4 linked regions of the Homo sapiens genome follow. The protein of the gene in region 3 interacts with the protein of the main gene of each other region in a pairwise test. Each region holds a gene or a part of one and is shown on either strand. Other genes may lie near its edges. The genes, in order: STBD1, TMEM14C, KASH5 and SLC41A2.

The links.
Region 1: the proteins of KASH5 (region 3) and STBD1 interact in binary tests that used the Homo sapiens proteins (3 or more experiments, as listed by UniProt).
Region 2: the proteins of KASH5 (region 3) and TMEM14C interact in binary tests that used the Homo sapiens proteins (3 or more experiments, as listed by UniProt).
Region 4: the proteins of KASH5 (region 3) and SLC41A2 interact in binary tests that used the Homo sapiens proteins (3 or more experiments, as listed by UniProt).

What each region holds. Positions count from the first base shown.
Region 1 is NC_000004.12:76,302,001-76,309,732, reverse strand, and holds the start of STBD1 (starch-binding domain-containing protein 1), read right to left. Parts: upstream 3,001-7,732; 5' UTR 2,964-3,000; coding exon 2,744-2,963; intron 590-2,743; coding exon 1-589. Other genes in the region: FAM47E-STBD1 (uncharacterized protein LOC100631383), read right to left, coding at 560-589. UniProt on the Homo sapiens protein: Acts as a cargo receptor for glycogen. Delivers its cargo to an autophagic pathway called glycophagy, resulting in the transport of glycogen to lysosomes.
Region 2 is NC_000006.12:10,718,419-10,726,198, reverse strand, and holds the start of TMEM14C (transmembrane protein 14C), read right to left. Parts: upstream 3,130-7,780; 5' UTR 2,958-3,129; intron 1,644-2,957; exon of another isoform or gene 1,630-1,643; 5' UTR 1,586-1,629; coding exon 1,566-1,585; intron 1,239-1,565; coding exon 1,162-1,238; intron 293-1,161; coding exon 191-292; intron 1-190. UniProt on the Homo sapiens protein: Required for normal heme biosynthesis.
Region 3 is NC_000019.10:49,405,046-49,412,826, reverse strand, and holds part of KASH5 (protein KASH5), read right to left. Parts: intron 5,942-7,781; coding exon 5,864-5,941; intron 5,588-5,863; coding exon 5,531-5,587; intron 5,216-5,530; coding exon 5,156-5,215; intron 3,861-5,155; coding exon 3,796-3,860; intron 3,632-3,795; coding exon 3,544-3,631; intron 3,075-3,543; coding exon 2,952-3,074; intron 1-2,951. UniProt on the Homo sapiens protein: As a component of the LINC (LInker of Nucleoskeleton and Cytoskeleton) complex, involved in the connection between the nuclear lamina and the cytoskeleton.
Region 4 is NC_000012.12:104,954,866-104,962,688, reverse strand, and holds the start of SLC41A2 (solute carrier family 41 member 2), read left to right. Parts: upstream 1-4,398; 5' UTR 4,399-4,601; exon of another isoform or gene 4,602-4,658; intron 4,659-7,699; exon of another isoform or gene 7,700-7,823. UniProt on the Homo sapiens protein: Acts as a plasma-membrane magnesium transporter. Can also mediate the transport of other divalent metal cations in an order of Ba(2+) > Ni(2+) > Co(2+) > Fe(2+) > Mn(2+).

The sequences.
Region 1 (7,732 bases), on a different chromosome or scaffold from region 3:
ACCTGGAACCTGACACTAACTTGCTGAGACCCTGCAGGCATCACTGCTACCCTTTCCATTTTCCCATGCACTTGCTGACCTCTTGCTTCCACCAAAGTGCTTCTTCCATTGTCCATTCCCTGGTTTAGGTTTAACACTGGAGCCTTAAGACTGCCACCCACACCAACATCCCCCCAAGATGAGTGCCTAGGCACCATTTCCCACTCCTCGTGGTCAACCCGGTCCTGACTGTTCAAATCAGAGAGGCTCATTTCTTCTTTAGCTCTGTTCTTGAGCAGGTTGCTAGAAGGCAACTTCTCTGCAAAACATGTAGCTGCTTTAGCAGATATCTCTTGTCCTTTTTGGAATCCCCATTCTCCCATAGGAGATTCAAGGCTTTCATTTCTTGAAACTTCAGAGTAACTCCTAGAGTTACTGGTCTCAGAGGTAGCTGGAGCTTCTGTGTCTGGAAACTGTCCAGAAGGAACATGTTCTCTTGAATTGTCACAGACTTCCCTGGAAGGATTCTGCAATCTCCATGATGCTGCTTGCAGTTTACCAAGGTCTTTGGTCTTAGAAATCAAATGTCCATTGCTTTCTTGAAGATGCTCTAAGAAATCAAAGGAAAAATGTAATAGAGTCAGGTAGTTCATTTAAGAAAAAAGTCAGGCTGAGAAAATAGATTTAGTTACTGAAAGCTTTACTACTAATCAATCTGCAATTCACAAAGTCCCCCTCTATTAAAATCAAGTACTACTTAATTAACCAGTATGCTCCCAACACTGTGCTCTAAGAATACACATGTATATCTGACAACAAAAGGGACATCCAGGAGTATCAGTGTGCCAGCACAAGTGTAAATGAAGTGGTAAGCTGTAGAGGCAGACGTGTAACCCCCCCATGGTCCCCAGTCTCCACAGTCCAGGCCATACTGGCATGCAGCCAAGTTAAGTTGCTTGGCTCCTATCATCAAAGAATGTTGTCCAGGCTGTGGGGCAAAGGGCTGCGTGGCTACGTTACAAACCAGAAGAGTACACTTGTTCTCCCAGGGGAGGCATGCAGGGCAGGGATTGGCTCTCGCAGACCTGCGGGCAGATCAGCAGGAGCTGTCACCTTGGGGAGATACGGAGAACAGTAGTGCTTCCCTGGGCAGGAGTGGAGGGAGAACTGGGGGAAGGGGCTGGTTTCTCCTTGCCAATCCCATATGCGTTAGGAACCTCCCCAACAAAACGGTGTTTTGTATCCCCTTCCATTGTAAGCATTTTTTAAAAAACGTTCTTAAAAATACAAAATCCAAGTCCTCTAAAAATGCAGTTTCCTTCTTGGCCATGCCATTGGTAGTCCAAATAGCTCCCTACAAGATTGAAATCTCCAAATCATACATACAATCAGCACAGCTGTGGTTTTATGTGGTGTGGGGGTGGTGGTGGTATGGGGACAACAGTCTTGTTTCATTTTATCCCTTTTTTTTTTTTTTTTTTGAGATGGAGTCTCGCTCTGTCACCCAGGCTGGAGTGAGTGCAGTGGTACGATTTCGGTTCACTGCAACCTCTGTCTCCCGGGTTCAAGCGATTCTCCTGCTTTAGCCTCCCAAGTAGCTGGGACTACCGGCGCCTACTACCACGCCCAGCTAATTTTTGTACTTTTAGTAGAGACAGGGTTTCACCATATTGGCCAGGCTGGTCTCGAACTCCTGACCTTGTGATTTGCCCGCCTCGGTGATGGTGGGAGTTGGAAGTGAGAATGAACAAATATTATTCTGGATTCCCAACTTTTCAACCTAAAGCATGAGATTGGTCTTCAGAAAAAAGATAAGTGAACTGTCTAGGCATCCCAGACCAATCACAGTAAAGGCACACGGGCAGATTTTCATATGGCTGCACATGAACACCACTGGGCTAAAAATAAAGTTCACAGATGTCATTTTCACCATTAGGCTTCTGTCCAGGCATGGGCAGCTTGCCAAGGGAGGGCACTGGACGGTAAGCTTTTCTGCCAGTGTTCGCTCTCTGCTTAGCAAACGGTCCCTAAAATACAGAAATTTAAACCCAGATGTCAATTCTACTCATCAGGGTTGGGTCCCCTATTTAAGTAGTCCCTTCCTAGGGATGACTATCCGGCCCTATTCTGGGGCAGCGTGGAGGGGACTGCCGACAGTGCTGAAAGGGGTGACCAAGGCACATCCCCAGGGCCTCAGCCACAGCCTTCATGGCCAGAGTCCAACCTGAACTTTGCCTTCCTAAAGAAGCATCCAGATAGCAGGAGGCGCCCGCAGTTCGGGTGTTCCCAAACCCAGCTCTTCATGGGCTGTGCGATGGGAGGATGTCAGACTACCCGGATTGGGACTTAGAAAATGTCCCTGCTTGGGCAGAGATCGAAGAGGCTTGTAGGATCCCCTAAACCTAAGCCCCCCTTTCCAAAGGCCGGGAAGGGGCGCCGCCACTGCAGCCGCCCGCACTGCACCAAGCGCCGCCAAGTGGAGGAGCTCATCCCCGCCGGAGGGGCAGGACCAAGTCCTCAGGCGCGGGCGCTGAGGGACTCGGCAAGGGCGCGGCCCTTGGAGGACCAGACAAGAAACCTGCCTGCGCGTACCAACCAGCCTGGGAAACCGAGGGGCGTGGGGATGGCCCAGTCCCCTTAGGAGAGCCCGTCCGCAGGAATGGGCCCCTAGGAAAGCTCCAGGTGGGTTTGTCTCTTTGCTCCCTTCCTCGATGAACCTCAAAGCTCTGGCAGATGTGCCCTGGAGTCACGGGGGGAAGAATACCTGGTTTGGTGACCAGCTCCTGCCCGGAAGGTCCAGGGCTCAGTCCGCTGCTGCCACTCTGATGGCCTCCCGGAATCGCAGCTCCCCCAAGAGGGGCGTCTTTCTCCTGCTCCGCATCCCCGTCCTTCCCGGTGTCGCCAGGGCCGCCCCGCAGCAGCCAAACGAAAAGTGCTCCGGCCAGACCCCCTCCAACCAGCAGGGCGGACCAGACGGCGCCCATGGCTGAGAGGCCGCGGCCGCAGGAGACTACAGGGACTGGGACCGGGGCTCAGGTCACGCACACAGAGCCACACCTACCCCGCCCGCTCCAGCCTTTTACGGTTTCTGCGCCGGGCACTCCGGCGGAGCCCGGCCCTGAGCGACCAGTACTCAACTTTCCCAGCCCCGCCCCGCTCCCCGCCCCTGGGCTGCAGCCCCGGGCTCCCTCCCGGGGAAGACTCCAGCGCTCTTCTGTCCCTACACTTTCTGTTCCCGGCCTTGCCAGTTGCCAGCGGCCAGGGGCGCAGGGGTCGGCGTTCCACGTGTGTCCCGCGTGAAGAACCCAAGTGCGCACAACTGCCCCGCGCAGCCGGGACCTGCCCCACCGCCCTTCCTTCTTCCGCCTGCTGCCCGCGAGGCCCAGCCCTGCCTCGGCCCGCACCGGGCACCTCGGCGCCTTCTCCCCAGGGAAGCTCAGCAGCAACGCGGTCAGCTAGAGGCCGAGAGCTTCCTGGAACTTAGAGGTGGGAGAGGCCGCGGGCGTCGGTGACGCGCGGGCTGGAGCGCGGGCTAGAGCGGTGGCGCGTTCGGGTGGGATGGGTGGCCCGGAGGACGGCGGGCGCGGTGCGGGGAAACTGGGAGCCCTAGTGGAAGCTCCGCTCCGCCGCCAGCTCAGCGCGCTTAGCCTCCCCAAGCTTCCGCCTCCTCGCCTGTAAAATGGAAGGACTGGACTGAGGACCATCCATCTAAAGATGCCAGTCAGCTCAATCACATCCAGTCTCGTCCTCTTTGGGCGTGTATGGCTGCTGCGAAATGCGCACGCATCTGTATGAACTGGATGTTGTCCATGGACGAGCTCCTACAGATAAGTTTGTTAATAAAAACAGCAGCTCTTTATTAAGCACTGTCTGTATTCCGGATGTTTTAAGTGTGTATTTAATTTAATCCTCACAAGACAACAACCCTGTGCGGTGTTATATATATTTCTTTGTAAATCCTTTCCTCTGCTGATCTGATGACTTTGCACAACAGCTTCAAGCTGATGATCCCCACGTCTATGTCTGCAGCTCACACCTTTCCCTTGGACTCCGACATTCAACTGCTAAAGGCCACAGATACCAAACACCTGCCTTGGAGTAATTGCTATAATTGCTCTCTCTGGTAGGGCAAATTATCTAATGTGCCCCTTGCTCCGAATGGACAGTAGCCCTTAACGGGGTGCAAGGTTCTGCCAGTGGGGTTACTGGAAGGCTGATGCACGCCTTGATGCAGGCCACAACTTCTGTAATCATAAGAGAGGAGGTAGAGGAGAGGTGAGGGCGAAGACTGCCTACTGGGCATCTCCTCGTGGATGTCTAATAGACATCTCAAACCCAACTCATCCAGACCTGAACTCCCCACCTAACTCCCCAAACCTACTACTCTCCCCACCTTCCCCATCTCAGGAAGTGGCAACCACATCCTTCCCATTGCTGCAAAACAAAACACAGCAAGCTCCCACAGGCCACTTTCAAACCACCAGTCAGCGTGATCCTGTTAAAACACCCCAGTTCTCTGCTCAAGACCCTCCAGTTGCTCCAGATCACACGGAAGAACCTTTAAGACCCTACAGGATCTGTTCCCCATGACCACTGTGCACTCATCTCCATCTTGCCACCTTCAACCACACTGGCTTCCTTGCCTAGAGTCATCCTTCCTGCAGACATCCTCTCTCTCTCATCCCCTTTAGGTCTTGGCACAAGTGTCATCTGCATCCCCACTACCCCCTCCCCTGCCCAGCCCTTCCTTGACAATCCCAGTTTTAATTACAATCCTACTCCCTATATCCTTCCCCTGCTCCATTGTTCTCATTAGCACTTAGGGCGTCATTTCTAATACACTCTATAATCTGTGTGTCTGTGGTTTAATTTCTCTTTCCTCCCTTCAGAGTGTAAATGACAGCGGGGATGGTTGTCCTTTGTTCTCTGCTGAATTCTTAGCACCTGTAACCTCTCCGGAGTGAGCGCTTAGAAGTACAGGTTGAATGAATGAATTAAAAGCCCCAGGTAATTTCACCCTAGAGCATTATTGGCATTTTTCTTACGTAGATTCCATATGCATTTTTAGCCCATGTGGATATTACCGTTCCTTGAAATTCATTTTATGTATAATAAAAAGTAACCGTAAAGCTATATTTTTAAGAGAATGAATGTCACTGTATAAAATAAGATTCTTTCAGCCTGGGCAGCATAGCAAAACCCTGTCTCTATGGAAAAATACAAAAATGAGCTGGGCAAGGCAGTGGCGCCTATAGTCCCAGCTACTCAGGAGGCTGAGGATCACTTAAGCCTGGGAGGTGAAGGCTGCAGTGAGCCATGATCATGCCACTGCACTCCAGCCTGGGTGACAGAGGGAGACTGTCTCAAAAAATCTGATAAAAATATAAGATCCCTTGCATGTGCGGTTCACATAGGGTTTGTGCTCCTATGAGAGTCTAATGCCGCTACTGATCTGATAGGAGGTGCAGCTCAGGCTGTAATGTTCACTTGCCAACCACTCACCTCCTTACTGTGCAGCCTGCTTCCTAACAGGCCTCAGACCAAGGTCTGGGGACTCCTGTCTAAGGGATAAAAATCCCAGAGAATCTGTAAAATCCTTCAGATGTAAGCCCCACTATTCACTTATAATACCTAAAAGGCTCTTAATATTTATTGCTGTCATAAATGTCCATTCATTTATTTAAAATAATACCAAAAATTATTTTCTCAACCCATCAGAATTATTTTTACATTGTATCATATTGATCATGCAACATTTTTTTTAATTTACTTTTTTCTTTGGGAATCCCAAGAAGCTAATGCAACATTTTTAAAGAACATTATTTGGCCTTCCTTTTGGCTTTTCCAAACTTAAGTGCTGGCTCATTAATTTCTGTGTTGCTGCTCTTTTAAAAAATGCTCCAATCATAGTCATATGTTTATATTAAAGGTTCATAGCCACATATCCTAAAAACATTCTTGCCGCACTGATGATACCCATGCTTATCGCTATACACTTGCAAAACAATCATGTTTGCCTCCATATAGAAAACTGTGAGTGCCTAGGAAGATAGTGTTGTCAGGGAGCAAAAAAGGCAAGAACGGTTGTGCGGACAAAGGAGGAAGATGATGAGTTCTGCTGGGACGTGTTAAATTGGAGGCACGAGCAGGAAGTTGGAACTCGGTTTCTTTAGTTTAAGAGGATCAAGGCTGGAGATGTTGGAAATTCTGCATAGAGATGTGGTAATTAAATCCATAGTAAAGATTAATGTTATAAAGAGAAATGAAGGATGGATGAGCCCTTGACACAATTGCAAGAAGAAAGATTGGGAAGTTGCCTCCATGTTGCTATTTATATTGCAATTCTGTCTTGAGATTATATTTTATGGGCCATAATGTAGAACCCGTTTTCTAATTGATATTATTCTATTTAATAAAGTATGAATAGATATAGATGGATATTTTAAAGTTTATTTTATTATATATTTTTTCCTTTAAACTTATGCAAGAAAAGATTGCTCAATCCTGGCTTAGAGGGATGAGGACAGAACAATGAAAAGCAACTCTGTTTGCAAAGTCAGAGAGACTAAAGACTGTGGGAAGGAAGAGCCAGAGAAGAAGGAGAACCAAAATCAGATAAGAAAAGCAGTTCAAGAAGGTGGCCAGGAGAGGGAATGGAGGCATTGCTTTGCAGAACTGAAGTTGATAGAGAACTGAAGGGAAAATGGTTGCAATTGGCACATAAGAGGCCATCAGTAGCTCTGGAGTGTTTGTGGGGGTGGAAGTTGGATTTCAGAATGCTAAGATATAAATGTTGTGAAAGGATAAGAAGTCCAGCATTGAGTTATCTCTCTCTTGAGAAACGTGGAGGCAATAGGTTGGAGAGAAATTGAAGGGTTGCTTAAGAATAGAACAGGATACCCAGCACTTTGGGAGGCCGAGGTGGGAGGATCTCTTGAGGACAGGAGTTCGAGACCAACCTGGGCAACACAGGGAGACCCCCCCCCCCCACCTTCCACCAACCCCCCCCCCCCAAAAAGAAAAAGAAAAGAAATAGACCAGGACTCAGGGCAGTTCCTATAAACCAAGAGAGATTTAAGCACGATTGGGAGCAGGAAAGAGCCAGTGGAGACTGAGCTTGAAGACATGAGAAGCAGAGGAAATATTTTTTCATTGGACTTTCATAAGGCACAAGAGGGAGATGGGTCAGGAATGCCAGTGGAAGAATTGGCCTTCAATGAAGGAAAGAGATTAGAAGGGCATGAAAAAAAGAAAAGAATGAAAATAAGAGACATTTTGTGCCACAAAGGAAGTAGTCAATGAGGTTATCAGCTGAGTGGGAGAAAGAAAATCTGGCTGGAGTTTTAAGAAAAGCAGAGAAAGTAGATAATGACCACTGGGAGAAGACATGGCCAGTAGAAGAGGTGTCTCTGCATAGTCCTGTTGCCTCTCCACAGTGGGGTATAATAAGAAAGAGATTTGGTCTTGTCCTTTTGTTGCTGGCACAGAGAGCGTAGAACCCTTGGGATTTGTTATTCCTAATGGGATCCTTTCGATCACACCAGGTTTTCTCTTATGGTATCAGTATCTTTGAGGTTTGTCTCATCCCTAGTTTAGATCATAAATCCCTTGCTGGTCACAGCTTGGACATCTTTCTATTCCCTGGAATGTCAAGGCTATCATCTAATAGGCCTTCTTTTTATTGTTTTTGTTTATTGAATAACTAAAATATGCAGGCACCAGGCTAAGTGCTTTATAAAGATTATCTCATCCT
Region 2 (7,780 bases), on a different chromosome or scaffold from region 3:
GATAAACAGAAACCAGCATAATTCCTGCCTCTGCACCCTCATTTTAAAACTTTCTGAGGACTTGGTAGAAGCAGTGAAATTGTCGTAAGTGAAGTGTGAAGAACTCACCCCATCCCACCAAACCAGGGTCTTTTGGAAAAGAGTATTCTGGATACATAGCTGCCCTAAGGAGACGCCAAAGCAGACATACCTAGGAAAACCCAAACGTTCCTTGGATCCTGAGACAGCTGGTAAGCACCCAGGCCGGCTAGACTGCCAAAGAGCAGCCCTGCAGCCAGGGACGGCACGCTGCCTAGAGGGAAGCAAACACAGCTTGCATTGTAATGTCAGGCACTTATTTCACTAACGGAATCCCCCAGACCGCTGCCCTACAAAGGAGGACAGCACAGAGAACTCTCAACACAGCTCATAGCCAAGGTGGACTCAAGCAGGAAGACGTTACAGAGAGTGTGCTATCTTCTCAGAGAAGTCAGGGTCTTCCCACCCCATTTTTCTCTCCTCTAATAGGCAGGGCACTTCCATCTAAGGAAAGGAAAGAAGGCCATCTTCCCTCCTTAGATGGAACTGTGGCTAGGCCTTCTTTCTAATCAGGCCTGATCAACCATGAAGGACTGGAATTGTGTACAGGCAGGACCTCCAGCAAATCACAAAAGGAGAAGGAGATAAGGCCAGTCAATTAAAAAAATACAAAGACCTGGAGAAGAAGAATTCTGGTGCAGGGGTTGGGGTGGGAATGCAGGCAAGGACTAGGGGGCAAACACAAGCACAGCCACTGACACACCCCTGCCTGGCCTAACGAGGAGAGTTCAAAATACCAGTCTGTGTAGGCCAGAGGTTTCCTCCTACTTGAGCCCAGAGATGGCACTTGGGGGTCGTGGCTGATGAATGGCAGTCAACGATAATAACAAACTACAACCGCCCCTGCCTATCTGTAGATAAAGAGGCAAAAACAAGTAATTCCAAAAGAGGCCTGGCTCAGCTTCACCAGATAACCAAAGGGCAAGGGCAGGAGCTGCAAGACTGACAAGGAAGCCTGCACTCCAGCTTGGGGACCCACAGCAAACCTGACTCAAATGAGATTGCTTCTCAGGGACACGGGCATTCACATTTCACTGGGACAACGTGAAGATGTTAAGAGGCTAAGTAACAACAAAACCCTACCTGCTTTTACATAGCCAATGATCCCACCAGAAGCAACCAGTGCTGCGTAGCCAAAGCCAAACCAATGCAAAGGCACTCTGAAAACACAAGAGGGAGAAGTCAGTGCTAACCTGGCTTTGAAAACAAACCATACTGTCATAGGATGGGACTAAAAGGTAATCATTCCCCACAGGTCCTATCACTGAAAATAAGGACCACAGAGGTTGGATGACTTTCTGAGAGTCACACAACTCAGCAAAGCCAGAGCTGGGACTCAAACCCAAGTTTCTGGCCCACAGGTCCAGTGATCCTCCCATCCCCCATGCCATCCCAGGCAGTCTACTCTTAAGGTTCTTTTCAGCTAAGGAAAGGAACTCTGGTTTCCAGAAGCTCCTGGCTACTCCATACCCATTTACTGCACTCACACTGAGCCAGTGTCCTGCATTTTTCTCTTCTCTGTCCAGACAGGAGACTACCCCAGGCCTGCACCTGCAGAAAACAAGCTGGATCAGAGGTAGTTAAAAGCACAGCTCTCCAGCAGTCAGAAAGAAGTGTGTCCAACCTGCAAGCTACGCAACCTAAGTCTCAGTATTCTTCACTGTACCATGAGGATAACACTGGTACCGATTTCCTGGGGCTGTAGTGAGCATTCAATGGATGTCACATGTAAAGGTGCTTAGCACCTAGTAAACCCTGAACAGATGCTGACCATTGTCATGAAAACCTCAGTTTTAATCACATAGGCCCACGGGAAACTCAGCAAGATCCACTGACCAGCTCTAAAATCAGGGAATGTGTTAGTCATTTCATCAGCTACCCATGTTATCACTAAATTCAAAAGCAAATACTCCCGTGCCCTTAATCCAACTACTTTAATGTCTCTTTTGAGGGGAGGTAGGGGTGTTGCTTTTCATCCCTGCTGCAACAGCCAATTTCAAAGCTCAACTTTTTTAGAAACTTCTGCGTCCAACTCACAGTTCTTGTTAGGAGGGCAGTAGTAGGAGAGGATAAAATATACGGAAACAGTGGTCATATTCACATGTGACACTACACCCTTGGAAAAACAGCTTCTATTTTCTTACAGAAAGTATCCTGTGTCCAGTGAGCCAAAAGATGAAAGCAATGCATACCCCGTTTATTCTGTTTAAAGAATTAGGCCAAGCGCAGTGGCTGACGCCTGTCATCCCAGTACTTTAGGAGGCCGAGGCGGGCGGATCACCTGGGGTTAGGAGTTCAAGACCAGCCTGGCCAACATAGTGAAACCCATTGTCTACTAAAAAATATAAAAAAATTAATCGCGCATGGTGATATGCGACTGTAAATCCCAGCTACTTGGGAGGCTGAAGTGGGAGGATGGCTTGAGCCCAGGAGGCAGAGGCTGCAATGAGACATATTCAGGCAACTGCACTCAAGCATGGGCGACAGAGCAAGTCCCTCCCTCAAGGACAAAAAAAAAAAAAAAAAGAATTAAGTTTCCATAAAACAGGGAAGGGCAGCGGGCTTGGGATCTTGCCCACAGTTCTTAACTCGAGACGGCACCGAGTAAGGGAGGCTTTTAAAGAGATGGAGCAAGAAAATCACCAAGAAACGAGGCAACACTATGCTACATGGGTAAGCCTTTGCCTCAGGAGCCCAGGGGCTCCGCGCATCCACAACTTCTTTTAAAAGCAGAAAATACCCAACGAGAAAAGCACCGACCACACGGCCTGAAGGCCCGCTGAATCGGGGGGACGAAAAGCAGACGGCCGTGAAACTCCTAAATAATCCCTAAAAGTTAAAAGTGGCAGAAAATAAGAATAATCCCCAAATACTCGCACCGGTCTCACGAAGGCCCCGGCTGTCTACAAGGGCGCGCAAGCCGCAGGAATGACTGCGAGGTGTCGCCGGAAATGCAGCGGCGGGCGCTCTCCGTCCCGGTGGCGGGGCGAGGAGAGGGGAGCGGCTCTGTTGTGCCTGCGCAGTGTACCGGGAGAGGGGCGGTCAGAGAATGGGGACGGTGCGGGCGGGGCTTGAGCCGCCAAGTAGCAGCATGCGCCCTGCATTCAGCGGGTGGAGAGTGGGGCGGGGCATCGCGGCGAGCTCCTGAGTCCAGGGAACGCGGCGGGGAATCTCTGTGCTTCCCCTGTCCGCAGCGCCTGCAGGGCCGACCAGTATCAGTCCCAGGTCCAATCCTGAGTGGCCAAAAGCAGGAGACCCGGAGTTGGACCTGGGACTTGCACAAGCCGGACCACGTGAGCTCGGCCACGCCAGAGGTGAGGCCACCGCTGCGGGACCAGGGAATCTGAGGCTGGATTTTGAAGGACCCCATTAATAGAGGAACAAGTTACAGGGTATAAACCAGATGCAGGCCATCAGGGAGGAGTGTCACTCAAGCCCGATCTTGTCTACACCAGGAAGGGCCTGCCTGGAAGAAAATACGGGGGCTGCAGAATAATGTGGCTCAAAGCCAAATATCCGTTTGTTTTAGGGAGTGAGGCTGCTTGAGAAGCATCTTAAAGGGGGATGGGGAGTAAGTTAAACCTGATTTTTACCCAGCTCTGTGGACCCAAAATATCCACAGCATATTATCTCCATTCCCACTTGGAGTCACTCCTATTCCGTTTCCTGCACCACCATTCTCTTAGTTGCTCTACACTAAAATTTGCTGTCATCGTTGACTTCTCCCTCTCCATCCCCTACAAGTATCAACATACACAAATCTGACCAATATAATTGTCAGTGAATAAAGCGAATTCCAGCCAAGTTTTTTTTTTTTTTATGTGGAGTCTCACTCTATTGCCCAGGCTGGAGTGCAGCGTATGATCTTGTCTCACCACTACCTCTGACTCCCATGTTCAACTGATTCTCCTGCCTCAGCTGCCTGAGTAGCTGGGATTATAGGCCTGTACCACCACCCCTGGCTGCCAGGCTAATTTTTGTTATTTTTAGTGGAGATAGTGAGAGATCACAACGTGCCAGTGTGTTCAAAATTGATGGCTTCTTGGTCTGACTTGAGAAAGCTGCAGACCCTCGCGATGAGTGTTAGTTCTTAAAAGCAGTGTCTCTAGAGTTTTTCTTCCGATGTTTAGAAGTATTCAGGGAGTTTTTCTGCTGGTGGGTTTGCTGTCTCACTGGCTCAACGAGCAAAGCTACAGACCTCTGTGGTGGATGTTAAAGCTCTTAAGGCAGTGTGTCTGGAATTGTTTGTTCTTCCCGGTGGGATCGTGGTCTCCCTAGCTTTGGACTGGCTCAAGGAGCAAAGCTACAGACTTCTATAACGAATGTTAAAGCTCTTAAGGCAGTGCGTCTGGAATATGTTTGTTCTTTCCGGTGGGATCGTGGTCTTCGTAGCTTTGGGAGCAAAACTGCAAATCTTCGCAGTGAGCGTTACCACTTGTAAAGACAACACAGGACCTAAGCACCGAGCAACAGCAATATTTGTTGCAAAAAGAAAAAGAGAAAGAACAAAGCCTCCTCCACATAGAAGAAAACCCAAGTGCGTTACAACTACTGGCTTGGGCAGCCTGCTTTTATTCTCTTATCTGGCCCCACCCACATCCTGCTGATTGGTAGAGCCGAGTGGTCTGTTTTGACAGGGTGCTGATTGGTGCGTTTACAATCCCTGAGCTAGATACAAAAGTTCTCCACGTCCCCACCAGATTAGCTATAGAGTGTCCACACAAAGGTTCTCCAAGGTCCTGCCAGAGTAGCTAGATACAGAGTGTGGATTGGTGCATTCACAAACCCTGAGCTAGACACACGGTGCTGACTGGTGTGTTTACAAACCTTGAGCTAGATACAGAGTGCCGATTGGTGTATTTACAATCCCTAAGCTAGACATAAAGGTTCTCCACGGTCCCCACCAGAGTAGCTAGATACAGTGTCCATTGGTGCATTCACAAACCCTGAGCCAGACACAGGGGGCTGATTGGTGTGTTTACAAACCTTGAGCTAGATATAGAGTGCCAATTGGTGTATTTACAATCCCTGAGCTAAACATAAAGGTTCTCCACCTCCCCACCAGACTTAACCCAGCTGGCTTCACCCAGTGGATCCCACACCAGGGCTGCAGGTGGAGCTGCCTTCCAGTCCTGCGCCCTGCGCCCACACTTCTCAGCTCTTGGGTGGTTGATGGGACTGGGCCCTGTGGAGCAGGGGGTGGTGCTCATCAGGGAGGCTCGGGCCCTACAGGAGCCCACGGAGGTGGTGGGAGGCTCAGGCATGGCGGGCTGCAGGTTCCGAGCCCTGCCCCGTCGGAAGGCAGCTAAGGCCCCGCGAGAAATCCAACGCAGCGCCGGTGGGCTGGCACTGCTGGGGGACCCAGTACACCCTCTGCAGCCGCTGGCCTGGGTGCCAAGCCCCTCATTGCCCAGGGCCGGCCGGCCGGCTGCTCCGAGTGCGGGGCCCGCCAAGCCCACGCCCACCCGGAACTCCAACTGGCGCGGAAGCGCCGCGCGCAGCCCTGGTTTCCGCTCGCGCCTCTTCCTCCACACCTCCCTGCAAGCTGAGGGAGCCAGCTCTGGCCTTGGCCAGCCCAGAAAGGGGTTCCCACAGTGCAGCGGTGGGCTAAAGGGCTCAAGTGCCTCCAAAGTGGGAGCCCAGGAAGAGGAGGCGCCGAGAGCGAGGGCTCTGAGGACTGCCAGCACGTCGTCACCTCTCACTAGCAGCCTTCGCTTGCTCTCGGTGCCTCCTTAGCATCGGCCAGGCTCGAGGAGCCCTTCAGCCCGCCGCTGCGCTGTGCGGGGCCCTCCCTGGGGCTGGCCGAGACCGGAGCCGGCTCCATCTGCTCGTGGGGAGGCGTGGAGGGAGAGGCGCAGGCGGGGACTGGGGCTGCGCTGCCCCGGGTTCCAGGTGGGCGCAGGCTCGGTGGGCCCCGCACTTGGCGCGACCTGCCGGCCCCTGCTGGGCTTGATCGGAGGCTGGGTCCAGTGCGTGGACCGCCGTTCCCTCTTGGCGGGGTCGTTGGCCACGATGGCGGGTCTCTGTCTCTCTCCTCCTCTTTTCCTCTTGGTTGTGTGGGAGGAGCTCCCGGAGTGCCCAGGCTAGTTGCCAAAAAGTCCCACCCAACTCCCAGCGAGAGGTGAAGCCCGCTGGGCTTCTGGGACGGGTGGGGACTTGGAAAACTTTTGTGTCTAGCTAAAGGATTGTAAATGCACCAGTCAGCAGTTTTTTGTCTAGCTAAAGGTTTGTAAACGCACCAATCAGCGCTCTGTGTCTAGCTAATCTGGTCAGGACTTGGAGAACTTTTGTATCTAGCCAAAGGATTGTAAACGCACCAATCAGCACTCTGTGTCTAGCTAAAGGTTTGCAAATGCACCAATCGGCACTCTGTAAAATGGACCAATCAGCTGGATGTGGGTGTGGCCAGATTAGGGAATAAAAACTGGCCACCCACAGCCAGTAGGGGAAACGTGCTTGGGTGTTTTCTTGGGCTGACAGAGCTTTGTTCTTTTGCTTTTTGCAATAAATGTTGGTGCTGATAGTTCTTTAGATCCGTGCAATGTTTATGAGTTTTAATACTCACCGTGATAAGGCTACAGTTTTGCTTCTGAAGCTAGTGAGACCACAAACCCACTGAAAGCAGATGAAAAACTGGATGTGCCACCTTTATGAACTGTAGCACTGACTGCAGAGGTTGGTGGTTTTATTGCTGAGGCTAGCAGAGAGCACAAACCCACCAGAAAGAACAAGTAACTGCAGATGTGCCACCTCTAAGAGGTGTAACACTCACTGCAAAGGCCTGCAGCTTCATTCCTGAAATCAGTGAGACCGTGAACCCACCAGTAGGAAGAAACTAGATAATGTCTGAATGTCGGAAGGAACAAACTTTGGACCCACCATCTTTAACAGTTGTAACATTCAATCATGAGGGTCTGTGGCTTTATTCTTGAAGTCAGCAAGACGAACCCACAAAGTCCAGACACAATGGGGTTTCACCATGTTGGCCCAGCTGGTCTCAAACTCTTAATCTCATCTGCCCACCTCAGTCTCCCAAAGTGCTGGGATTAGAGGCATGAGCTGCTTTGCTGGCCTTTGTAGCATGGTTTTTGCTTTTTTTTTTTTTTTTGAGATGGAGTTTTGCTGTTGTAGAAAGTAGAAAAGCTTCTCTTCAAACCTTGTCTTGGTTTAAAAATAGACACCAGGAATAATCACATCTTACTCCAAAGCCTGCTATCAACTGTTAGTTCTTACGATTTAGCCCAGTTAGTTGCTTTGGCTTATTCAGGCATGTCTGGACAGGCCCAAGCAAGTCTCAGCTCATATTTTATGCCCCTTCCTTATTTGGAAATGTTATTATTTCCTTAAACCTTTCATAAGCAACTTAGTCTCCTTTATCCTCCCTTGCACCTAACTATTTAGGAAAGTTTCAGGTTGTTAGCAAATTGGAAATTTAAGACCGAGGTCCAGCACCAGTCAATGCATGCAGGACACAGCAGTAAGGAGGACCCAAATGTGTAAACCCTCTGCTTTTCCTTTGTTCAAGTGTGCTATTGCCGTTGTTCCATCTGTGAGAAGCACCCTTTCTGCAGGAAGTGAAAATGGCCTTGCTGAGAGAATTAAATTTATGTTTGAGTGCTATTTTGTGGTGCTGGGGAACAAGCATTTCTAACAGTTGCCCAGGCTGGAGTGCAGTGGCATGATCTCAGCTCACTGCAACCTT
Region 3 (7,781 bases):
ACCTTCTACAACCTGCCCTCCTCTCGTGCTGCCCTACATGAGGATGGCCCTATTAGCCCCCTAAGGGCAGAAGCCAAAAACCAAAGGGTTGTTCTCGATGCCACCAAGCCCCCTTCCCTGACAGGACCCAGGAGTCCCGGTTGCCTAAACTTCCTGGATGTTCCACAGATCTCGTACACTTATCTGGGTCCCAGAGGAGATCAGCATTTCCCTGTCCAACCGCCTTCTCATCCCAGGTTCCCAGACTTGGGCTGGATCTATCTGCTCTCCCTCAGGACCCAAGTACCTCTCGGTTTCTCCAGAGACATATTGGCATTGCCCTTGACCTCAGCAACCAACTTGCCATTGTTTTCTAAACGCAATCCTCGAGCTCCAGGATGGTGCACCCAACTCTTCCAGGCAGCCCCCAGACATCCCTCAAGATTTCACCTCACAAGGTCACAAGTTCCAAGTCTTGCCTCCTTTCCTCCCTCCCCATCACCCACATCCCGTCTGACCCCTGCTCTGTCCCTCCACCCCAATTATGTCTGTCTGTCCCTTTTCCTCCATCCCTAGGGCCCTGGCCTGGCTCAGGCTTCATCACCATTGCTCCAGCCTCCTCCCTGCCTCCAGTAGGTCCCTCACATGGTTCCAGAGGGATCTTTTTAAGCCCGGAGCTGACCCCACCCTTCTTGTGGCTTTATGAAGAAAAGTACAATCTGTTAGCTTGTCAGAGATTTCCTTTCATGATCTGGCCCTGGCCTCATCTCTCACTAGTCACCCCTAGTTACCCTCTACTCCTCAAGCATATCGTGATTTTATGCCAAGGCCTTGCACAGGCTGTGCTAGTGCCTCAAAGGCTGGCTTCCTTCTTTCCTTCCTTCCTTCCTTCCTTCCTTCCTTCCTTCCTTCCTTCCTTCCTTCCTTCCCTCCTTCCCTCCCTCCCTCCTTCCATCCTTCCTTCCTTCCTTCCTTCCACTCAAGTATCAGTTTTCCTTCAATATCTTCCCCAATCTCTGACCTGACACAGATACCCCTTCTCTGGGCTCCCACAGGCCCATCCCCCACCTCTAGCACAATGATCATTCTGCACTGGGGCAACCCATTTGCAGGGTCTCTCCTATCAGGCCTTGAGCACTGAGAGGCCCGGCCCCAAGGGACTCAGCTCTGTATCCCTGGGCCCATCGCAGGTTGCACTCTGAGGCCTGGCTCAGTCTTCCCCTTGACAAGCCTGTCTCTCAGGGGCATCTGACAGCTCAAAGCAGAAGCCCAATCTAACCTACACTTCTGAGGGATGAGGCTCTGTCCCCAACAAGCTGTGTGACCATTGGCATGTGATTTCTCCCTGAGCCTCAGTTTCCCATGAGTAACAAGATGAGGATGCCTGCCTTACAGAGATACTGGGAGAGTTAAATGAGAACCCAAACAAGCTCTGGTGTCAAAGAGAAACAAAAGCTTTTCTCAAACCAGGGAAAAAGTGATCAGAGAAATGAGTCTCTCCTTAAGGATGGCAAAGAGCTTTGAAGTGGTGCAGTTCTCAAGACAATACAGCTTGTTTATAGAGCTGTTTACAACATTTTCTTTAAAAGAAAAAAAAAAAATAGAGAGAGAGCCCAGAGCAGTGGCTCATGCCTGTAATCCCAGCACTCTAGGAGACTGAGGTAGGCGGATCACTTGACCCCAGGAGTTCAGCCAGACTGGGCAACACAGGGAGACCTCATTTCTACAAAAAATAGAAAATTTAGCTACACATGGTGGCACATGCCTGTGGTTGCAGCTACTTGGGAGGCTGAGATGGGAGGATCACCTGAGTCCAGGGAGATTGAGGCTGCAGTGAGCTGTGATAATGCCACTGCACCCCAGCCGGGGCAACAGAGAAGCGAGTGAGACCGTCTCAAAATAAATTAATTAATTAAAAAAAAAAAAGCCAGGTGCAGTGGCTCATGCTTGTAATCCCAGCACTTTGGGAGGCTGAGGTAGGAGGACAGTTTGAGCCCAGGAGTTTGAGACCAGTCTGGACAACACAGTGAGATCTCAACTCTATAAAAAAATTTTAAAAAGGCTGGGCATGGTGGCTCATGCCTGTAATCCCAGCACTTTCGGAGGCCGAGGCGGGCAGATCACCTAAGATCAGGAGTTCAAGACCAGCCTGGCCAACATGGCGAAACCCCGTCTCTACTAAAAAAAATACAAAAATTAGCCAGGTGTGGCAGCAGGTTCCTGTAATCCCAGCTGCTTGGGAGGCTGAGGCAGGGAGAACTGCTTGAACCTGGGAGGTGGAGGTTGCAGTGAGCTGAGATCGTGCCACTGCACTCCAGCCTGGGTGACAGAGTGAGACTCCATCTCAAAAAAAAAAAAAAAGCCAGTCATGGTGGTGTGTTCCTGTAATCCCAGCTACTTGGGAGGCTGAGGTGGGAGGATTGCTTATCCAGGAGATTGAGGCTGCAGTGAGTCAAGTTCACTCCAGCCTTGGCAACAGAATAAGACAAGATCCTGTCTCTAAAAACAAAAAACAAAAAAAACCCCAATGGTTATTGCTGAGTTAAAGATGTCATAGTGAGCTTGCTGGCTTTTCTTAAAGGTGCTAACATTTGAAACATAAATGCTTAATATATCCTTAAAATGCTGGAATAAACAACTTACTTATTCCCTTCCTACAGTAGTACGATTTTAAATAATGTAATTCCCAAGAGTGTTTTCTAAAAAACAAACCAACAATAAAAGCCACAGTGCAACTTGTGTGTTTGCTTGGTTCACCTTTGTCTACAACGCTGGCAGGTCAGTCCCTGGGGTAGGGGTGGTGTCTGGTCTGGCTTGTGGCTGGGTGTCCAGCACACACTGGGCCCTCAATTAACATTTTCTCATCAAATGGGGAACAAGCAAAAGTGTGAGTGAATGGGCTGGCCAGGGCGGCACCTGGAGCTCCTGGCCCCTTTCCAGCTCCTGGACTTCAGAGCTTTTCCTGTGCTCACCTGTCCCCCAGCTGGGGCTTCAGATGGAAACTCAGTTTCCTCACTGGTCTCATGGATGACTTCCTCCCACTGCCACACCCCACACAGAGGGTTGGAGAGATCAGCAGTTGCCACTTCCTGTTTCTGGGACAGAAGTTGTTTCCGAGGTCAGGGAGAGCCATATTAAGGTAGAAAACAAGGTCAGAGATAGAAATAGGTTTAGGTGTGCGGCTGAAAATAGGATGAGAGATAGAAAAGGGCTGGTGTGGGGCTGGGGTTGGGGAGTGGGCAGAAGCAGGAACAGGGGAGGATTTGGTGCCAGGACCAAGGTCTAGGTTCGAGATGAAGTTAAGGAGTGAGATGGTCATGGAGGGAGACGAGATAGGGGTGAGTCAAAGCTGGATCAGACTGGGGTCTGGCACAGGCCTGGGTCTGGCAGTGGGTTTGGGGTTAGGATCCGAGGTAGAGAGAGTTAGAGAAAAGCTAAGGTTGCGATAGGAGCCTCTGGCAGCAATGTGGGTTAGGGCTAGGCTGGTGTGAGGATCAGAGTAGGGAGATGTTTGGAGATTCTGCCTTGGTGGCCTGCAGCTTATTCCAGGGGTGTTAGGCCCACCTGTCGAATGGCCTCGATCTCCAAGCCCAGCGATGGGGGTAGCAGCTCGGTCCAGCCCACTCTTCTCAGCTGGGCCCCTTCAGGTAGCCTGGCCACACAGGAAGGAGGGAGGAAGATGGCCTCTGTGCCTGGTGGCCACTCAGTCAGCTCATGCTGGCCTCCCTTCCCTGCCCACCTTGGGGCTGGAGGCCAGGGTGTCCCTGCCCTTAGGCTCCCCTCCTGCCTCCTCCTACCCCTTGAAATTCCACTCACTCATCGGGCCCCTCATAGGTCTGACTCAGCTGCTCCTCCAGGCGTGAAATCTCCAGCCTCAGTTCCTGCAAAGGAGGAAGTGGGGAGCACATTTGGCTCTGCATTTTTCCCACCCTCCCATCCACCTCTGGGCTCCTCTTCCAGGGTTCTTTCCCCTTTCCTGACTACTTTGGGCTCCCCAGACACATACTGCCTAGGGACAAGGGGAAGAAAGCCATGACAGAATGTTAGGAAGCCAAAGAGAGAGAGCAACAGGAATCCAGAAGCTAAAGCACAGGCCAAGAGGCCAGGCGCAGTGGCTCATGCCTGTAATCCCAGCACTTCAGGAGGCCCAGGCGGGCAGATCACAAGGTCAGGAGATCGAGACCATCCTGGCTGACAGGGTGAAACCATGTCTCTACTAAAAATACAAAAAATTAGCCGGGCATGGTGGCACACGCTTGTAGTCCCAGCTACTTGGGAGGCTGAGGCAGGAGAATCGCTTGAACCCAGGAGGTGGAGGTTGCAGTGAGCCGAGATTGCACCACTGCACTCCAGCCTGGGTGACACAGCCAGACTCCATCTCAAAAAAGAAAGAAAAAAAAAAAGCACAGCCAAGACAATTAAAAGAAGGAAGGCAGAGGCAGAGATGCATGAAAAAATGAGACATAGATGGAAACAGACTCACAGACAGGCAAGAGAAACATGAGGGCTAAGAGACTGGTAAAGACCAGAGCCAAACAGAGAAGACTTGCCTAGGGAGACAGACAGCCTAGACCTAGAGGCAGAGACAGGAACCCACACGAGCCTCGCAGAGACACATAAAGATAAGGAGGGGAGGCTGGGTGTGGTGGCTCACGTCTGTAATCCCAGCACTTTGGGAGGCCAAGAGGGGTGGATTACGAGGTCAAGAGATCAAGACCATCCTGGCCAACATGGTGAAACCCCGTCTCTACTAAAAACACAAAAATTAGCTGGGCATGCTGGCATGCACCTGTAGTCCCAGCTATTTGGGAAGCTGAGGCAGGACAATCGCTTGAACCTGGGAGGCAGAGGTTGCAGTGAGCCGAGATTGTGCCACTGCACTCCAGCCTAGCGACAGAGCAAGACTCCGTCTCAAAAAAAAAATAAGATAAGGAGAGGAGGTGTGTGAGAAGACACCCACAGAGAATGAAAGTGAATGGAAGGAACAGAGAAAAAGTGAAAAGGCAGATACAGAAACAGAGGGGGAGACATGCAGTCATACAGTCATACATCAAGGATGGAAGAAGCAAGATGTGGCCACTGACAAAGAGGCACGAGGAGGAGAGGCAGCAAGTCCCAGAGATGGCAAAAGAGAAGTGGCGAGGGCCGCGGTGGGTGGCGAGGGCCGCTGAGTTACCTGCGTCGTCACTCTGTATTCTTCCAGGGTCTGGGCCAGGCTCTCCACATCGCGAGTGCGCTAGGAAAGCCGAAAGCCAAATGAGACTGGGACCAGTTCCCCAAAGACACTGGGGGTGGTGGTGGCGGGGGGACTGGCTGGGGGGTTAAGGGACAGGGTGAGCTTGAGGGAAGAGCTGGGGCACAAGGGAGAGCACCGGGCAGAAGGGCTTCTAGATCCCTGAGGGGTCACACTTGGGACCTGGGGAAACCCTCCAGTCTCTCCAGCTGCACATCCAAGGATCAGACCCAAGTAGGACTTCCCTTTCTAGACCAGGGGCAGGAAGTGGCTGGTGCACATGGAAAGCGAATCTCTTTCCCTCCCGGGGCCCCTTACCTCAGAGAGGATGGTGTCTCTTTGGCAAATGAGGTGTTCACACTCAAAGAGCTGCCGCTGCCAAGAAAGGAGCCGGTCCATCCATCCAGCCTCCCAGGACTCCCCTTGGTCCTGCCCTCCACCTGGCCCCACCTGTTCTCTCGCACCCCCACGTATTCAGCCTCCTGAGATGTTCCAGGACTTCAGGGATTTTAGGGATGCCTGGGTGGTCCTGGGAGCCTGACAGCTTGATGGAAGACCCTGCCCTTATCAGGCTGCAGTCACTAAAACCGGAAATGGGAAAAATGGCCCCGGGGTGGTGGAAAGTTGTCAGGCACTAGGAAGGAGTGGCACCTTCAAAGTGTCCTTCTCCATGGCCAGCTCCTGACTTCTCTTTTTCACTCCATCCCGCTCGGCAAGCAGCTTCCCGTTCTAGAAGAAGGAATGGCTGGTCACGTTCATTCCAGCAAGTGGTAATGTCAAAATTAACAGCAGATATTTGCTAAACACTTGATTGATATACATCAGGCCTCATGCTAAGCACTTCATATGTTTTAACCCATTTAATTCCTCCAACCATTCCAGTGGGACCACAGCTTTAATTTCTTTGAGTGTGGCTCCCCCATCTATAAAAATGGAGCTAGGCCACGCGCAGTGGCTCACGCCTGTAATCCCAGCACTTTGGGAGGCTGAGGCGGGCGGATCACAAGGTCAGGAGTTCAAGACCAGCCTGGCCAACATGGTGAAACCCCGTCTCTACTAAAAATAAAAAAATTAGCTGGGCATGGTAGTGCGTGCCTGTAATCCCAGCTACTCAGGAGGCTGAGGCAGGAGAAATACTTGAACTGGGAAGACGGAGGTTGCAGTGAGCCAAGATCGCCCCACTGCACTCCAGCCTGGGCGACAGAGCGAGACTGTCTCAGGAAAAAACAACAACAAAAAAACGGAGCTTAACTAGGACCTACTTTATGGGATTGCTGTAAAGATTAGATAGGTTAATAATCGCTAACACTTACTGAGCATTTTGCATGTGTTGACTCATTTCTTATCCCCAATTTTAAAATCAAAAGAACAATATAAGCAGCCTGTTATCCACATTATCTATCACCCAGCTTCAATAATTATATGCATTTTCTCGGTTTTGTTTAAACTGAGATGTTTCTCCTCCAGATTTTTTTTTTTTTTTTTTGAGCCAGAGTTTTGCTTTTGTTGCCCAGGCTGGCATGCAATGGTGCGATCTTGGTTCACTGCAATCTTTGCCTTCTGGGTTCAAGTGATTCTCTTGCCTCAGCCTCCCTAGTAGCTGGGATTACAGCCACCTGCCACAACACCCAGCTAATTTTTTTTTTTTTTTTTTTTTTGAGACGGAGTTTCCCTCATGTTGCCCAGGCTGGAATGCAATGGCATGATCTTGGTTCACTGCAACCTCTGCCTCCCGGGTTCAAGTTATTCTCCTGCCTCACCCTCCCAAGTAGCTGGGATTACAGGCATGTGCCACCACGCTCAGCTAATTTTGTATTTTTAGTAGAGACGGGGTTTCACTATGTTGGCCAGGCTGGTCTTGAACTCCTGACCTCAGGCGATCCACCTGCCTCCACCTCCCAAAGTGCTGGGACTACAGGTGTGAGCCACCGCACCCGGCTCTCCTCCAGATGTTTTAAGTAGATTACTTTAAAGCAAATTGCAGGCATCATATTAGTTCACCTGTAGTTACTCCAGCATTTATCTCCTACTTGAGGACTTATTTCCTTTAGCAAAACCACAATACCACTATCATACTTAACAAAATTAACAATAACTCAGTATCATCTCATACTAGAAAGTTTGTGCTCCTTTTTCTTTCTTTTTTTTTTTTTTTTTTGAGAGGAGTTTCACTCTTGTTGCCCAGGCTGGAGTGCAATGGCGTGATCTCGGCTCACTGCAACCTCCGCCTTCCAGGTTCAAGCGATTCTCCTGCCTCAGTCTCCAGAGTAGCTGGGATTACGGGCACACGCCATCACACCTGGCTAATTTTTGTATTTTTAGTAGAGACGGGGTTTCACCACGCTGGCCAGGGTGGTCTTGACCTTCTGACCTCAGGTAATCCACCCTTCTTGGTCTCCCAAAGTGCTGGGATTACAGGGGTGAGCCACTGCACCGGGCCTGTGCTCCTTTTTCATTTTGGTTGTCTCAGAGATTTCTTTACATTTACTTTGATTGAGGGTCCAAACAAGGTCCATCATTGCTTTTGGTTGAAATGTCTTACTTCTTTTAATCTGACAGTAATTTCTGC
Region 4 (7,823 bases), on a different chromosome or scaffold from region 3:
ATTTTTGGTAAAGACGGGGTTTCACCATGTTGGCCAGGCTGGTCTCGAATTCCTGACCTCAAGTGATCCGCCCACCTCAGCCTCCTAATGTGTTGGGATTACTGGCGTGAGCCACAGCACCTGGCCTGCAAATTTAATTTTGCTTCATCTCAACCACTTGATTACTTCACTACAGACACAGGAGACTCCTTGCTGTCTCCTGAACACAACATACACACTCCTGTCTTAGGACCTTTGTGCTTGCTGTACTTTCCCCAGGTATTATTACTGTTCCCTCACTCCTTTTTGTTCAAGCCATCAAGGTCTCCCTGGATTAGTTTATATAAAACAGTCCCCGCTCCTCTCCACACCTTCCCCACCCCGCCCCCAAACTCTCTAACTCTTTAACTCTATTTCTTTTCATAGTAGTTATCACCATATACCTAGATATATATATTTGCTTATTTGTTTATTAGTTGTTTATTTTCTTTCCCCATTTGAACATGAACTCTGTAAGGCAGGCATTCCTTTATGTTGTTCAATACTGTATTCCCAGAGCATAGGACAAAATGTGGCATTTAGCTAAGTGCTCAAAAAATATTTATAAATGAATGAATGATGATTTATATTTGGCACAAAAGAGGCCCACAATAGCTACCTGTTGAATGAATGAACAAATGAGTATTGCAGAGATTCCCAGGAAGGGCACTGATAATGGGGGTAGGGGCAGAAACTAGCACATGTGTCTGGAACATTGGCTGCATGGGCTGCATGTCCCCTGAATGATGGTTTTTCTCTAGTTCTTTTTCTTTGTGGGCATTTATATGGTTTGTGGGACCACTTTTAAGTAGGCCACATGGTGGTTCTTGAGCCTCAGTGATCACCAGAAATATCCATAGAGATTCTTATTTAATGGGTCTGAGGTAGGTCTTGGGAATTTGAGTAACTTTGAGCAAGGATTTAACCCTCAGTTTCCTCGTATGTAAAATGGGATTATAACATCATTTTATAGAGTGTCAAGATTAAAGAAAATCATCTGTGCGAAGTGTCTCACACATAGTAAATATTAGATTCCCTTTGCTTCTGCTCAGGTTTTTGTTTTTGTTTTTGAGATGGAGGCTAGCTCTGATGCCCAGGCTGGAGTGCAGTGGCGCAATCTTGGCTCACTGCAACCTCCACCTCCCAGGTTCAAGTGATTCTCATACCTCAGCCTCCTGAGTAGCCGAGACTACAGGTTCACGCCACCACACCTGGCTAATTTTTGTATTTTTAGTAGAGATAGGGTTTCACCATGTTGGCCAGGCTGATCTCCAACTCCTGACCTCGAGTGATCCACCTGACTCAGCTTCCCAAAGTGCTCGATTACAGGCATGAGCCACCACACCTGGCCTGCTCAGGTTTTCTCTGAAGTTTAGAGGTTAAATCTTATGAACAGTTCATATTATGTGCTCTCCTAAAATTTAGTTTTGATTCACCTCAATCCAGATCTCTACTCTGAGTTGCAGTTTTTCAAACATAGAGTCAGTATCTTCATTTGAATGTCTCATAGGGGTATCAAACTCAACATATATAAAGCAACTCAAAATTGTCCCCTTCTGATCTCCTCCTCCACATTTCCCAAATCAGGAAATGGCATAAACTCAAATTAGAAACTTGGGAGTCATTTTTTGACACTTTTTCGCCTTTACCTTCCATGCATTTGATCAAATCCTTACAGTTCTAACCCTGACCTATATCTTCAATCCACCATCATCTCCTAATCTCCATTGCCTGCAAACTGGTTGTCACACATCCTCTGTTGCACCCTTCTTATTAATTCTCCACTCTGCAGCCGGAATAATCTCTTTTTTTTTTTTTTTTTTTTTTTTTTAAGAGACAATGTCTCACACTCTGCTGCCCAAGCTGGAATGCAGAGGCACGATCATAGCTCACTGCAGCCTCGAGCTCCTGGGCTCAGTCAGGTGCGTGCCACCAAGCCTGGCTAATTTTATTTTATTTTTGTAGAGATGGGGGTCTTGCAATGTTGCCCAGGCTGGTCTCAAACTCCTGGCCTCTAGTGATCCTCCCACCTCAGCCTCCCAATGTGCTGGGATTACAGGTGTGAGCCACTGCATCCAGGATCATCTTTTACAAATGCAATTTTTCATGTCCAGATAGGACCTTTTCAACTCTTCATTGGCTTCTTTTGTCTTTAGGATTAAATCCAAAGTCCTTAACCTGACCCTCAAGGGCCCGCCCACCTCTCCCTCCCAGGTAGCTCTCTCAGTCTAAGCACAGTGGCCTTTTCCCAAAGCCTTCACAGACAGAGCCTCTTCCTACCAAAGGGCCTTCAAACCTGCAGTTTCCACAGCTAAATGCACTGCCCACCCCACCCCCTTCTCTATGTTGCCTGCCCTAACTCCTCCTTATTCTTCAAGGCTGAGATTAAATGTCACTTCCTCCAGGAGATCTTTCTTACCCCCTAGCACAGACACGCTCCTTTGTTATACACTCTCATAACTCTCAGGCTTTTTTCCAGCAATCACAACAGCATCACCACACAGCCTCAAGTCCAAGCCACTTGCTTCACATTTGAAGTTGCCAGCTGTCAGACGGGAGATGAAGTAGAAATGGGATTGTTGTTGTCTGCACCCATTAGGACCCAGTTTTTTACAAGGGGGCATTTCCTCGCCCGATTCCAATGTGAGTTATTTTCAGGGCTGAAATTTGATTTAAATTTGGATTCCAACTTGAAGCTTAACATATCTCCAAAGTACACACTACTTTGCGGTACTGAATGAAGAATGTAAGTAGAAGGTTGCCTGCCACATGCCATGTAATGCTCTGAAGGACGGTAGAAACCACCAGCTCTCTCAGAAAAAAATGGTGGAAGAATTTTCAAAACCAAGACAGGCTGGCTTCTGTATATGCTTTGTGTAGAAATCTTGAAAGACTACACACTCAGGGGAGGAACACATATTGGGTGGAACTTCTGCCAAACTTTCAAGAGCAGCTACTTTCTAATGATCTGTAATTCAAAAAACAACCAGAACAAAAACCAGCTGGAAATGCAGTCAAAACACTGCTTTTCCATATTCCTTGCAATTATACTTTCATTTTTAGGTGGTGAGGAACACCAGGATGAGTCATTATAAAAAGCATGACTGCAGATGGCCAAGAGTGATACCGAAGCACCCTTCACCCTGAAGGTTAAGGTTAAAGCTCAAAGTCTGATCGCAAAGCATAAGGAAAAAAAAAAAGAACATGGATAAATGTATGCTGGTGTCCTTCAGCACCAGAAAAGCTGCTACTAAATCACTGGTGTGGCTTGGAATTGGTAGAAGCTTTGATTTGAGGAAAAGAGTATCATTAGCTGTGTAATTTTGAGTTGTTGTTTTAGAGACAAGGTCTCATTTTGTGGCCCAGACTGGAGTGCAGTGATGCGATCATAGCCCGCTGCAGCCTTGAACTCCTGGGCTCAGGCGATCCTCCCACCTCAGTCTCCTAGCCACTCCAGGTCTCGCTGTGTTTGCCCAGGCTGGTCTCAAATTCCTGGCCTCAAGCGATCCTCTCGCCTGGTCCTCCCGAAGTGTTGAGGTTACACGCATGAGCCACCAATCCTGGCATTATGGCATTAGCTGTGTAATTTTTAAAATAACTGTCTTCGGACCAACACCTTTCTTTTGTTCACTGGAGTATCCCTGGGGTGTGTCTCATTCCCTGAATCATACACAGTAGATGCTCAATAGTTTTGTAAATAAAATAAATGAGCTCTCGGATTTACATGCAGACTTTGGATCAGTTTGATCTAGGTTTAAAAGCAAGTGTGGGGAAACTTGAAAAGCCTGGCACCCCAGCCAACTCTTCAGCGCCCCATGCGCTTGGCGCCTACACCTGCCTGGCACGGGGAGGGTGCTATGGGGCTGCCCTAAACCTCACCCCCTCCTGCGGTGGTTCCTGCCCGTCTCGGCTCCTGCACCGCCCACACTATGCGCTGCTGGGCCGAAAGACACGTGGTTCGGTTTTAACTCCAGTCTGCAAGAAACATGACCTCAGCCAAAAAGAGGCCGCTGGTCTGAGAAGAGAAATCATGAGTCATGGATTCGGGGGTTCGGACCTTGGAGCAGGCGGTGAAGTGGGCGTGCGTGGGCTGGTGGGGAAGAGGGATGCCGAAGGAGGCCACAGCCCTTCTCTCCTGGGCAGGCTCCCCAGAAAACTGCCCCCTTGCCGTCATCCAGCGCCCCCGTTCCCGACAGCTGTCTGCCAGGGCGCGGCCGGGGTCCGGGCGGGGCGGTGCTGTCGCTCCGGGTCGCCGCCCCGCGGGCCACATCACCAAGGCCCGGGCTTCCCCGGCGGCGGCGCGGCTGCGCTTGCGCGGGGCTGCCGCGCGGGGGCGGGGCGGCGGGGAGTCAGGGGGCCGCGGGCGCCGACGGCCGGGCTGTCAGCTTGGGGCCGCAGCCGCGCGAGGAGGCGCGGGAGCAGGAAGGAGCTGTGGGCTGGGAGCCGCTGTCCTCCCCGCCACCACCGGTGCCGGGCACCAGGTGAATGCCCCTTCCATCCCCCGCCCCTGGTGTCTCGGTCTGGTCTGAGGAGACGGGGACCCTTCTCACACCGGCCGCTGCCGCCGCCGCGCTCCGGAACAGGTGACCATGGAGGGGAAGTCTCGGCTTCGGCCGCGGCGCCGCGTTCGGGCGCATCAGGTGCGGGAGGGAGGTGGGGCCGAGAGGCCTGGGCTCGGGACCCGGCGGCGGGGGCGCGGGGAGCAGAGGGAGCGGCCCCGCCCGAGCAGCCGTGCCCCCTGCGGACGCCTCTCCGGGCCGCCGGGCAGCGCCCGAGCCCAGGCCCCCGCGCCTGCCCCACCTCGGGCTGAGGGAAGCTGTTCCGCGGCCACCGCGGACAAGCGGTCCCGGGCGCCCAAGGCAGGGACAGGCGGCGGGTGGTGTATGAGTGATGGCTGAAGGTGAGCTGGGATGGAGATGCTGCGAGGCTGGCTCGGGCACACCCCAGATGCCTGTTCAGGGCTCCGCGAGTGCCCCGTCACCCTTTTCTTTCATTCTTCTCTTTATATACACGGAGCATATCTCAAATTTAAAAGCCCAAATGCTCATTTACAGAGAGAGATGACACATATCTATGTGTTACCGATATACATTGATGTGTATATTACGTATATATGTCATCTTTTTTTTGTAGTGACAATTTTTAAATTGAGATATACATCACATGCCATAAAACTCATTCTTCTAAAGTGTGGCTTTTAATATATTCACAGAGTTTTCCAAATATGACCACTATCCAGATCATCATCCCCAAAAGAAACCCTGTCTCTCTTAGTAATCACTCCTCATTTCCCCTTGACCCCACCCCACTAGCCACCACTAATCTACTTTCTGTTTATATGGGTTTGCCTGTTGTGGAAATCTCATATAAATGGAAGCGTACAATATGTGGCTTTTTGTGTCTGGCGTCGAAAGACATACTGTAATGTTTTCAAGTTTCACTCATGTAGTATGTATCAGTACTTTACTTTTTATAGCATATTAATATTGTTGTATCAGTGTACCACATTTGTTTATTCATCAGTTGATGTACATTTGGGTTGTTTCCAGTTTTTGGCCATTGTGTGTAATGCTGCTATGCACATTTGTTTACACGTTTTTGTGGACATGTGTTTTCAGTGCTCTTGGGTATATACCTAGGAGGGCAATTGCTCCGTGTTTCACTTTTTGAGGAACTGCCAAGCAAAGCAGCTGTACCATTTTACTTTCCCACTAAGCAGTGTATGAGGGTTCCGATTTCTTCACATCTTCCCCAAGGCTTGTTACTTTTTTACTGGTTATTTTTTATGATAGCCATCGTAGTGAGTGTGGAATGGTATCTCTTTGTGGTTTTGATTTGCATTTCTCTAATGATTGGGGATGCTGAGCATCTTTTCATGTGCTTATTGGCCATTCATATATTTTCTTTGGAGAAAATGTTCATATCTTTTACCCATATTTTAATTGGGTTGCTTGGCTTTTTATTTTTATTTATTTATTTATTTATTTATTTGGAGACTGACTCTCAGTCTGTCACCCAGGCTGGAGTGCAGTGGCACAATCTTGGCTCACTGCAACCTCCACCTCCGGGGTTCAAGCGATTCTCCTGCCTCAGCCTCCCAAGTAGCTGGGACTACAGGCACACACCACTATGCCCGGCTAATTTTTGTATTTTTAGTAGAGACGTGGTTTCACCATGTTGGCCAGGTTGGTCTCCAACTCCTGAATTCAAGTGATCTGCCCACCTCGGCTTCCCAAAGTGCTGGGATTACAGGCATAAGCCACCACGGCCAGTCTGGGTTGCTTAGCTTTTTATTGAGTTTTATTGTTCATTTATGGAAAAAAATTTCTGTTAATAGGTTTGGATACTGGCACTGACTTGAAAAAATCCAACCAATCTGATACCGAAAAACTTAATGCTTATTCTTGGGTAAAGGTTGAATAAGTGCCACTTCATTCTTTAAGAATACCCTACCTGTTCATTCTGGACATCTTACTGACCCCTTTACATTTACTGCCCTGGTATTTTGAGCAAAGCTACAGAAGGCATATTCCTGACTGGAGTCAAGAGAGACCACCCTTAATTGGTATTTTCATATATTCTATGCTCAATTTGAAAATCCCAGTTATCACTTTAATTACAAAAAATTTATATTAGTGGCCAGCTGAACAAACTAACAATAAATGGCAAGCACAAATCACTCAAAAATTTATGTTTAACTTCTCAGTAAAGTGGAGAATCTTGTTTTCTTAAGTTTGTGCAGTGTAGTTTTTATTACAATTATGTTCATGTGTGGGTGGTAAATAAATATTTTTGATGGCACTAAAGTTAAGAGCCACTTACAGCTAAATGAATGCTGCTGTGCTTATTTCATGGTTAATTTCCGAGCGCACACAAATTCAGCATCAGGTCTTTCATGGCCAAAAAAAAAAAAACCACTAAAAAGACCTGATGTTACCTCCCAGGAATTCAAACTCAATTTTCCACTGATCTAATATGATTGTTGTTAAAGAAAAAGATTATTCGATGATACTTGTTAAAATGTGGTAAAAAAAAGTCTATTCAGGACCATTGTGATAGGTAAAGGGACCATGGAATGGGATTTTGCAGTTTGGGAGGAAGACTAGGCTCAATTCTGAATACGGTGTGGGCAAATGGGAATTTATAGCCAAGGAGCAGTGTCATGGTCAGTGGACAGAAAAGTACTGAGAGGAAACACCGGGGGTAGTGGATATTCAGACCAAACCAACCTAACAGGATTCTTGCTGAAGACAGGCCAGAGTGATCAGACACCACCTGGGGGACAGTGGAAGCTGAGGAACCTAATCAGGTTGTGAGGGTAATCAGGTAGCGAGGGTAATCAGAAAGCGAGGGCCAGCTGGGTGCAGTGGTTCATGCTTGTAATCCCAGCACTTTGGGAGGCTGAGGCGGGCAGATCACCTGAGGTTGGGAGTTCGAGACCAGACTGGCCAACATGGTGAAACCCTGTCTCTCCTAAAAATACAAAAATTAGCCTGGTGTGCTGGCGGGCACCTGTAATCCCAGCTTCTCAGAAGGCTGAGGCAGGAGAATTGCTTGAACCCAGGAGGTGGTGGAAGTTGCAGTGAACCGAGATCACGCCACTGCACAGAGCAAAACTTCGTCTTAACTCAAAAAAAAAAAAAAAAAAAAAAAAGCAAGGGCCAAGAGTCAGGGGCTGTTGCTAAACTCACTTGACGAGGTTCTTTGATAAAACTGCATTTTACAAGGAAGTGCACAAATGGGCCTAGAAGGTTCAGGGGCCTGAGTAAAATTTCGTCAAGAAAAGAATCTTTCTCATTGTTGGA